Linked DNA regions of Homo sapiens: region 2 is linked to region 1. Evidence: fine-mapped expression QTL. A gene starts in region 1. The other region holds a variant in brackets. All regions are shown on one strand. Distances are from middle to middle.

The links. PIP is the estimated chance that this variant, and not a neighbour inherited with it, causes the effect.
Region 2: its variant is the best candidate, but not a certain one, in a credible set for the expression of DNAH6 in NK cells (Schmiedel 2018, PIP 0.64).

What each region holds. Positions count from the first base shown.
Region 1 is chr2:84,512,962-84,518,491 of GRCh38, forward strand. DNAH6 (dynein axonemal heavy chain 6) reads left to right here and starts at 3,537. Exons shown (of 77, transcript NM_001370.2): 1 at 3,537-3,622; 2 at 4,858-5,090. The coding sequence starts at 4,866.
Region 2 is chr2:84,670,932-84,675,931 of GRCh38, forward strand. DNAH6 (dynein axonemal heavy chain 6) reads left to right here. Exons shown (of 77, transcript NM_001370.2): 40 at 1,396-1,553. Among named protein-coding and RNA genes, the nearest start is that of DNAH6, 160 kb to the left of the region's middle. The variant AG/A (reference allele first, on the strand shown) is at 2,344.

The DNA of each region.
Region 1 (5,530 bases):
CCATTTAATGTAATTACTGATGAGGAAGGACTTACTTTTGACATTTTGTATTTGTTTTCTATATGTTATTTTTCAATTCTTTCACTATTGCCTTCTTTTGTATGAGGTAGATTTTTTTAAGTGTACCATTTTGGTTCACTTTTTATCTATTTTTTTTTAGTTATTTTCTTAGTGGTTGCCCTGTGATTACAATTAACATCTTAATTTATAATTAATTAAGTTTTTCTTCCTGTAAGTGGACCATACTTTCTTTGTTTGCATGTCTCATACTTTTGGTTGAAAATTGGATATTGGATATGTTGAATATTATAATATGGTAACTCGGGAAATCAGATTCTCCTGCCTTCTAAGAATTTGTTGTTTCTGCCTGTTGTAGGTTGTATTTGTTTGTTGCTGACTTTTGTAAACTATTATTTAAAGACTGTATGCTTTGTCACATGTGGTTACTGAAATCTCTAAAGTCACTGAAGTCTTACAACTTTTGTGGAAGGATGGACTTTTAGAGTTCCTTACTCTACCATTTTTGCTAATGTTATTCCCATAATTACTTTTAAATTTTATATTGTCATTATCCTTGAACATTTCATAAATATTTTATGTATTCTATATTTAAGAGTTCTAATATATAATGTGTTTGCCTTTTAAGTCTTGTTTATTCTGCTAACTCTTGTTTGGAGTGGCTTGTTTTCTTGTATGCTTGGGTTTTTTTTAATTGTAAATTTATATTTGGCTGAAACTAACTTGTGAGAATTCTAAGGACTCAGAGTTGATGATGCCTTTCTCTTCATGGGTATTTCCTAGTAGCTTGCATTTTTTTCCCCAGACCACATAGGTAGTGTAAATGAAAAACCCAGAACTAGTTTTGTCTATACTCCTAAATTCCTGGGGGAGACTATTATATTTTTAACAATTTTTTCCCACCTGGATCTACAGGTAGAAATATGCTGGTTTTCCTGTAGGTTTTTGTCACTGCCAGTTTTTTCCTAGTCCAACCTATTACTGAGGGGATAATTCTTCCAACAGTCTCAGATGTGTGTGGCAACTGTAGTTTGCTCTTCCATTTTGTGTAGACTCAAGCAAGGCCTAGTCTTCCATTTCTCCTCAGCATTAATCCCTGAAGCTATATGTTCTTTGTATAGGCATTTGTACCCACAGCACCCACAGCTTCCATGTTATTTATTGCTCTGGTTTCATCTGATTATTATTTTGACACTTGAGGATTCCCTTATTTCTGTGAGCCCTGCTATACTCCACTATATATCCAGAAGCAGAATTCTATGATTCAATAATCTTGGGCTCAAATTCATATAGAAATTTAAGTTGATGGATCTGGATTTGTATCTCAGCTCTGCCACTTACTACCTCTGAAGTGACTTGGGAAAGTCACACAACCTCTTTAAGCCTCAATTTCCTATCTGTGGAATAGGTATAATAATACCTCTAACATAAGGTTATTGCAATGATTAGTGGAATAGCACCCATCACAAATGGCCTGGTATATAAATCTTAACCTAATGCTAAAAAAATTTTAACTGCATTTCCTTTTACTATTAAAGATGTGAACTTGTGAGTAACCATTTGTAACCTACTTCTTTAGCTGTGAAATGGGAATTTCATGTTTGTTAGCAGTACTTAAGAAAATGAATGGGAAATATAAAGCACAGTACTTGGCACATAAGAAACAACCAATGAAATGTAACAATTATCTATAAGAACTATAAAAATAGCAGGCTATACACAAAGCTGCTACATTGATTTAGTAAGTGGTCAGTTGATAATGAAGATAACATCTTGCCACATTAAAAAATAAGCTTGGAGAGATTTGATGAGTAGTGTTTCATATAGTAATATCTTTGTAAAACTATGTCTGTGTCTTCCAATCCTCCCACCCCCACTTCACCACAGTCACACACACACACACACACACACACACACACACTTCTTAGCTTTTGGAATGCTTTCAGCTGCACATGGTAACAGTTGTGTACAATCCACCTTAATCTAAAAAAGGGAGTCTAGGATTGAGGAGCAATAGATTTGTCTCCATTGCATAAACTTTGAAGGGAACAGATTAAAATTTTCACTGCACATCTGAAATGAAATCTATTCTGAGGATGTGTCTAACATTGCTTGTTATTATAACTTTATGCTTCGATGTACTGAGTTGGCTTTGAATTTCTTTTTCCATTATTAGTTTATATCAATGATTGCATTTTACTAGCTGACTAGTTTTGTGTGTATTTTTCATCTCTGGGGAATTAATCTTTATTTTGTCTACATTTGAAGTTTTTCAGAATTTTTAAAATTTTTTCTAAACTGACTTTACTCTCTTGCTGTTTCCAGTTTCTCATTAGGGATTGGGAGATCTGCATTCTAGTTTTGTCTGTGGCACAACTAGCTGCCTGACCTGGAGTAAAGCACTTGCTTTCTCTGGGCTTCAGTTCCCTTACAAATCAAATAGGGGAGTTGGACTATGTGACCTGTAATCTCCATTTTAGCTCTATCTGTGATTTAGAGAATCATACTACCATATCAAATACATAACTGAATATGTTAAGATTGAGAAGATGCAGGCTGTGAGTACAATAATGTAAAGAACTTCACATAGAGCAAGAAACAAATATCAAGGTAACAAAGAGCAACCGAAAAGAGCAAAAGAAAATGATGATTATGTCATTTTGGAGACAAGGTTGAAAACCAGAGCTCCTCCATGTGGTGTAAGGATTCATCAAGACAGGTGAAAGGATTTCTTCCCCTGATCAGTAACTGGGATAAGGCATCCCGAGTAAGCAACAGGCCCTGGCCTTCGATGGGGTCGCTCCATACAAAATTAGCAACAGTCACTTGGGAACTTAAGTGAGATTAAACGCCAGAATAAGATCCAGGGTCTGCTTTGGTAGAAGGGGCACGGGAACCAAGTAATACGGGCTCATCCTATGCCTGACACCTAGGTTACCTTCCAAGTGGAAAAGGACATTAGTTGGAAGGCCACAGTGGAGTTTAAGGGAAGAGGAGGCCACATTTCTTGAGCCTTAAGACACTCGGGAGGAGGTTGGCGGGTAGGGCAGGGATGCAGAGTGGTTGCTTCCTTGGAGAGTGGGACCTCATTTGTCTACACAACCCACATTCCTCTCCTGAAATTCTCGACTCTTTCGGATAAATTTCTATTAAAGTGAACGTCAAGTCAGTCTTACGCCTCTTGAAGGAAAACAGAAAAGAAATTCCTGTAAGAGGTTGAGATGGGTGTGAGTGGTCGATAAGCAACGAAGCAAACAGAATTAACCACCTCCTTTGGCTGCTCTGCCTACACCTCCTGGCACAGTACTCAATTCCCAGCGCAGAGGAGGAACCAGGCTGTGCGGCTTCTCCAACAATCAGCGAAGTAGGAAATGTTTCGGAGACACTAATTGGCTCGATTGCCTGGCGCGCTCCTGGACCGAAAGCTGTGGCTGGTTGAGGCGTTGCCTGGCGACGTGTTACTCAGTGGCGCAGTGCTTCCGTAGAGGCCAGCTGGTTGCTACGCAGCAACAGGAAACATTCCGCGCTACCGAGTACTTTCTACTCCCGACCAGGCATTGCTCTCTCTGGAGACCCTCGGCGGTGGTTGCTGTATTTTGACTTGGTGAGTCCTGGGAACCGACCCTCGGGCCTGGGCTCCGATTTCTGGGCCAGAAACAAAGTCTGACTTTCGGAGAACATAAAGGCTCAAAGAGGCAGAGAAAATCAATGGAAAGGCATTTCAGTGATTGTCTGCTATCCGCCCATCATTTTAGAGGGGTGGAAAGTGAGCAATAGCGATATCAAAAGACTTGTCCAAGATCTCACGCTGAGTGGTCAAATCTGGACCTGCGCTGTTAAATACGGTAATCTTTAGACCTCGTGTGGCTAGTCTGAATTGCAATGTGCTCATATGTAAAAAGCACACTGGATTTTGAAGGCGTGGTACCAAAAGACAACATAAGATATCACTATAATTTTTATACTGTGTGTTCAAATGATTATGTTTTGTATATGGTAAATAAAACATATTATTAAAATTAATCTCACCTATTTCTTTTTTAAAAATGCTATTGCTTGAAAATTAAAATTGCATACAAAGCTCTCATATTTCTATTGGCCAGCACTGATCTATATAAAACCTAGGTCTGCCGACACCTGATTCAAGACCTCTTGTGCTAACCCTATTTTGGAAGGTGTTTCGAAGTATCTCCACTCATCTAATGGGGTGAAAGTGTGCGTGGTGGTGCAGAGTGCAAGACCATTACAAAAGGCTCATATTTCTAGTGTTTTAGGACCTTGCTACTCAAAGTGTATGAATCAGAACCTTCATTTTAACAAGCTCTGCAAGTGATTGTCCTGCACGTTAAAGCTCCAGAAGCACTGTGTAAGAAATTAGCCCTCAATTCTTTTTTTTCCCTTTGTTTCTTCTTGAGTACCTATACTGTATTTTTCAGACTGCGTGTACTAGAATTAGCTGCATTTTGAACAAGTTCCGCAGGAGATGAGAAACATTGATCTCAATACTAATTACATTTCCTTTTGTCCTTCCAAATCTAGACCAGTGTGGTCTCCAGATGAGCAGCAGCAGCAGCATCCGCCAAGAACTTGCAAGAAATGCAAATTCCTGGGTTCCACCCTAGCTACAGGGGTTCTTGAAGCCTAGGCACAGTTTCTAATTTTTTATTCCTTTGGTTCAAGTCCTCAGTTCGGGAAGACTGGGGTAACTTTGATGGGTTTTATTTGAGGGAAGTGAGCGAATTCAACTCTTCCTAGTCCTTAAGTCCCTCTCCAGTAGCCTCCTTCCCCAATCCTTTTGATCTACTTTTCATTTTCTTTTTCCTCACCTATTCTTTTCAGGAGTAAGGATGACTTTTCGGGCCACAGATAGTGAATTTGACCTGACAAATATTGAAGAGTATGCCGAAAATTCTGCACTTTCAAGACTGAATAATATAAAAGCCAAACAAAGAGTGAGTTATGTGACATCCACAGAAAATGAATCTGATACACAAATCCTAACGTTTAGGCACATTACAAAAGCTCAGGAGAAGACAAGAAAACGACAGCAGCCTATAAAACTAGAGCCTTTGGTAAGTTCAAAAACCATTGTTTTAGCCTCTGTAGCCACAGAGGAAGTTGTAAAATTGCTTTGGAGGATAGAAGTCATGTCCAGACTCTGAACTGACAAAGAAGGAATGAAAAGCTAAAAGATAATAACTGCTTATGTAGTTGTAAATACGGTAAATATTTATTAAACAAATATTAAGTTCTAGGCACTGTTTAAGTTGAAGGATACAGTGGTGAACAAAGTTTTCAGGCAGATAAGTCCTCTCTAGGATTATGTACAATACAGATACTTAACTATGTATGCTATTAGGCACTTTTAGATATTAGGGTACCATTTAACACTGAGAAGTTTAGCAAATGTTATATTTAGTTATATAGTTTTATTATTTTCAAAGTACATGCCTTTGTATTTAAAAAATTGTGTGCATGTTGAAAATACTTAATTTTTAGAAACCATTTATGC
Region 2 (5,000 bases), 160 kb after region 1:
TTCTGGTCACCTTCAGACATTTGGAGTCTGGGCCAGTCTAAGCCTCAATCCAATACCCAATTCAAAGTTCCTCCTCTCATCTGTCCTAAGCCAGGTTTGTGGCTCCAGGTACGTATGGGAGGTGAAGGGGTCATGGGATGCTCTTCACTCCTCCCCACCCTCCCTGTAGGAGGCTGGAGTATGCAGGGAATGGGAGGAGAAGAAGGAAAGGACAAGTTTCTTCTCCCTAGCCAGTGTTCAGATGGGCCTCTCTGTGGCTGGTCCCTGCTTCTCTAGCTGGCACTGAGTGGTGTCTATGCTGTCTGTGAGGCAGGTTTTCAGGAGTGGGCTCTTGTAAGCAACTCCCAAAAGAGCTGTTTGCAAGCCAGGCATTGACCTTATCACTGGAAGTTTCCCTGAGGGTGGGAGTCAGGACCTCAGCCCTCACTCTCCAGCAGTCCATCTGCACCCTCTTGCAGCTGGGGCCCCACTTGCTCAGTCCACAGTCTCTGGGGTGGTGCACCAGCCAGGGCTCAGGCTTGGCTGCCTCCCACATTGCCCACCATCCAGCAGGCCCTGTCATGCCAAACAATGGTGCTGCCAGCTGCTTCACTGCCTTCTGTCTCTGTCCCCTCTCTCCTGCTTAGGTAGGCAAAGGGCAACAGATGCCAGTCTATTTTCTGGTGGGGGCCCCAAATTCTTACAAAGGTTTATCTTAGACCCCTTCCTTACCCCCCACCCCTTCCTGCTGCTTGGCTTCCAGGGGGCCACAGGATGGAGTGGAGCACTCAGTTTGCCTTGGAATCACCTCCTGTAGTAATCCCAACCACAAGGACATGGCTATTTGCCCATCGGGTTTCTCTTTCCTCTGCTATCACTCATTCCTTTTTCTAATGAGTGTGTATATTCATTTAAATGTGGCATTGTGCAGCCCCACTGCACTGGATTTCCCTTTGATGTGATCAGGATGCTTTTGAATATCTAATCTGGTTTCCCTGTGAGGGTACTGTGATGACATTTATGAAAGGAAACTTTGGCATTCTTCCTCTTCCTACTATGGAAAGAAAATGATGTTCCTCATTCATGCCTAAGCCACATGGTTGCTGAGGGCAGTGAGTGTGGCTGAGACAGAGAAAGGTTCACTCCTTGCTGGAGAGAGGCCACCATCTTGTGCCCTGACAGTGAGGATAAGGGGCCACCTGGCATGACAACGTGGACGTCTTGACCAGGACCACATCTTCCTGCAGGGGCCTGGGTGGGGCCAGAAGGAAGTCTCTCCTCCTCCAGGCAGGACTCAGAACTGAGCTCTTTATGACCTGTAGGATGTCATTGAGTCCAAAGTCATACCCTAGCTTTGTCTTACATTTTCTAAGGGAAAATCATAATTCTTAAATTAAATTCATTTTATTTCCCTAGGAGCACCGGGAAACAAACGAATTGTGATTTTTGTTGATGATTTAAACATGCCCAGACTGGATCGCTATGGCTCTCAGCCTCCGATTGAATTACTTCGGCAGTATCAAGATTTTGGGGGATTTTATGACAGAAACAAACTGTTTTGGAAAGAAATACAGGTTACTTTAGCTTTTAAATTACTTGGTGTGCTTAAATTTAAATGACAAGGAAATATGATGTATAGTTTGTGAGACTACCATAACAAAGTACCACAGATGGGGTGGCTTACACAACAGAAATTTATTTTCTCATAATTCTGAAGACTAGACGTCTAAGAACAAGGTGTCTGCAGGATTGGTTTCTTCTGAACACTCTTTCCTTATGTCTTTACATGGGCTTCTCTCTGTGTCTGTCTGTGTCCAAACCTCTTCTTATAAGGACACCTGTCATACTGGATTAGGGCTTACCCTAATGGCCTCATTTTAGCTTATCTCCTCTTTATTTGGACTATCTCCAAATACAGTCACATTCTGAGACCCTGAGTTAGGACTTCAACATATGATTTGGGGACAGGGGACACAATTCAGTCCATAACATGTGGCCTCAGTTTTTCCTCCATGTAATTCAGTGTATTCAGTCTATATTGAGTTTTTGCCATGCTTGGTTCAGGAGATCCATGAACAAGTGAAACAGTCCCTGCCTCCCAGAGAGCTTCAGAGGGTGGACAGACATTTCTAATGCAGAGTGGTGAGAGGGGAGAGACAGGAGGGATTCAGGGGTGGGGCTGGGTTGAGGATGGGAGAAGCCTCCCAGAAGTGATGGATTCTGAAGGCATGCATGCCAAAGCAGGGAAAGGGAGCGTTTTACACCCCAGAAGCAGGGAATGTAAAATACTACGGTGGTGTGAATTATGAGCACCAAACCAACAGGAGAGGCAGAGGTCACATCCCATGGTGCCGTGGGCCCATG[AG/A]GAGGAATCTGGATTTATCCTGTAAGTGCTGAGGAGCTGCTGAAGGAAATGTTATGGAAAGATCCCCTTGGCTGCAGGGGAGGGATGAGCTAACGAGGAGGCAAGACCAGAGGCAACTGCAGTAGCCTAGAGGACAAGAGATGAGGGTCGAGCCTCCTGTGCTAATGTGTGTGGTCAGAAAGGTTTAGAAGCCAGAAGGCAGATCAGCAGGACTGGTGGTGTGTTAGTCAGGGTTCTCTAGAGGGACAGAACTAATGGGATAGACATATATACATAAAAGGGAGTTTATTAAGTATTAACTCACATGATCCCGACGTCCCACAATAGGCTGTCTGCAGGCTGAGGAGCAAGGACAGCCAGTCCAACCTCCAAAACTGGAGAACTTGGAGTCCGATGTTCAAGGGCAGGAAGCATCCAGCATGGGAGAAAGATGTAGGCTGGGAGGAAGATGTAGTCTGGAAGGCTAGGCCACTCTCTTTTCACACTTTTCTGCCTCCTTATAGTCTAGCTGCATGGGCAGCTGATTAGATTGTGCCCACAATTAAGGGTTGGTTAAGGGTGATTCTGCCTTTCTCAGCCCACTGACTCAAAAGTTAGTTTCCTTTGGCAACACTCTCACAGACACACCCAGGATCAATACTTTGTATCCTTCAATCCAATCAAGTTGATATTCAGTATTAACCATCACAGGTGGGGTATAGAGTCAAGAGGGAGAAGGGGGAACCTAGGTTAACTGTCCCATTTCTGTTCTGGAGAAAATTTCTGTTCTGGAGAAACCAACACCCTTGACAAGAAAAGGGCGGGGGGCATGTTTCGTTTTGCTCACAATAAAAACAAATAATTGTACCAGGCACTATTCTAAGGATTTCCCACCTACTAGCACCCAACATCCCTACAAGATGGATAATGCTATCAGCCCTGTTTTATAGATCAAGAAATAGACCAAGAGTATGGAGTAATGTGACTGGTCCAAGGTCACACTACTGGCAAGTGGCAAAACTGGGATTAGAGCCCAGGCCATTTGGCTGCTGAATATGTGATTTCAGCTAAGATTCCTCCCTGCCCCCATTGCTAAGCTCCAGTTCCCTGGGAAATCCAGGTAGAGCACTTTCTGTCTATCAAAATGAGAGCTTAAACAAGGCATAAACATTCTTTGAAGTGAAAAAATAAGATGAGTGTAAGAGGCAGAGGGATAAATGGAGACTGAAGAGAGGGTCAGGCTGTGCAGAGGTGAAAACTGATGGGGTCACAGGTAGTAGGTCTCGAGAAAGGGGCCTTGGTCACCAACACAGGGAGCCCCGGATGCAAGATGAACGCATATTCAGTTCCTGGGAACTTTATCTTTATAAACAAAGCAGTCTTTTGCATATAAGGCTTTTTACTTTCCAAATAAGTTTATCTAACTTTATCTTCCCAACAACGCAGTGAGGAGAGAATATCACGTGCCCTTTGCAGGTTTAGAATTCCCCTGACTCAGTGCCATGGGGATGAGGGTGGGAAGGGAATGACTGCCAAACCTCCCACCAGGCCAGCGCTCAGTGGCTCCTCTCTGCCAAACAAATCACATGGAAATGCCTCTCCCTGGCACTCTGAGGCTCCCACATATGGCTGTGAATGGCTGCTCTGATCCGAGGGTCTTTTGCTGCTCCCTGCACATGCCCCACAGTCCCACTGAGGCATAAGGCTTGCTGTCTTCTGAAGGCACCCATATCCCCCACGGCATGCCTTTGTGATGGTGTCCTCTACCTGGAAGGGCCCTGCTCTCCAGCTCTTCCCTTATAATCTTCCTACTCCTTCAAGGCCCATCTCCAAATAGCCTTGCTCACAGGGCCTTTCCTTAAACCCCCATTTCCAGTGTGAGCTCCTCTTTCACCCTCATGGAGCACTGTGTGTCTTTATGGCCTTCACATTCTTTCTTGAATCAGAGCTGTTGATGTGCTCATCTTGTGTTGCATTCCTTCATGTTAGACTCTGAGCTCCTGACCTCCATCTCCCTCATTTTTATGGCCCCTGCTAAGCTTAATACCTTGTATATAGTAAGCCGTTGTTTATTGGAACTGATTCACGTAGAGACAGGGACTTGTCCACCTCAAGCCTTGGTGCTTTAGATCTGGGATCAAGAGTGCCTTCCTCTTGGTCTTCAGATTCTTCTTCCTACCAAAGGAATTGGCACACACTCTTCCCTTTGCCAGAAATGCACCTGCTTCCTTCACCCCTATGGCCTTGTCTTCTGCTACTATCACCTTCCAGCTCTCCACTGCAAGTGCCACTTCCTTGGCCAAATCTTCTCTGACTCACAGACTAAGTTAGGTTCCCCCAACAAGCATTGCCTCAACATTATATCCCTTTCCTTCAAAAAACTTACTGTGATTTATATTGCAATTTTGTTTTATTTTATTTTGAGGTAGGGTCTCATTCTGTCACTGAGGCTGGACTGCACTGGCACAATAGAGGCTCACTACAGCCTCAACCTCCCAGGCTCAAGCAATCCTCCCACCTCAGCCCCCCGAGTAGCTGGGACCACAGGCGCATGCCACCATGCCTGGCTAATTTTTTGAATTTTTAGTAGGGACTGGGTTTCGTCGTGTTGCCCAACCTGGTCTTGAACTCCTGGACTCAAGTGATCCGCCTGCCTCAGCCTCCCAAAGTTGCATAT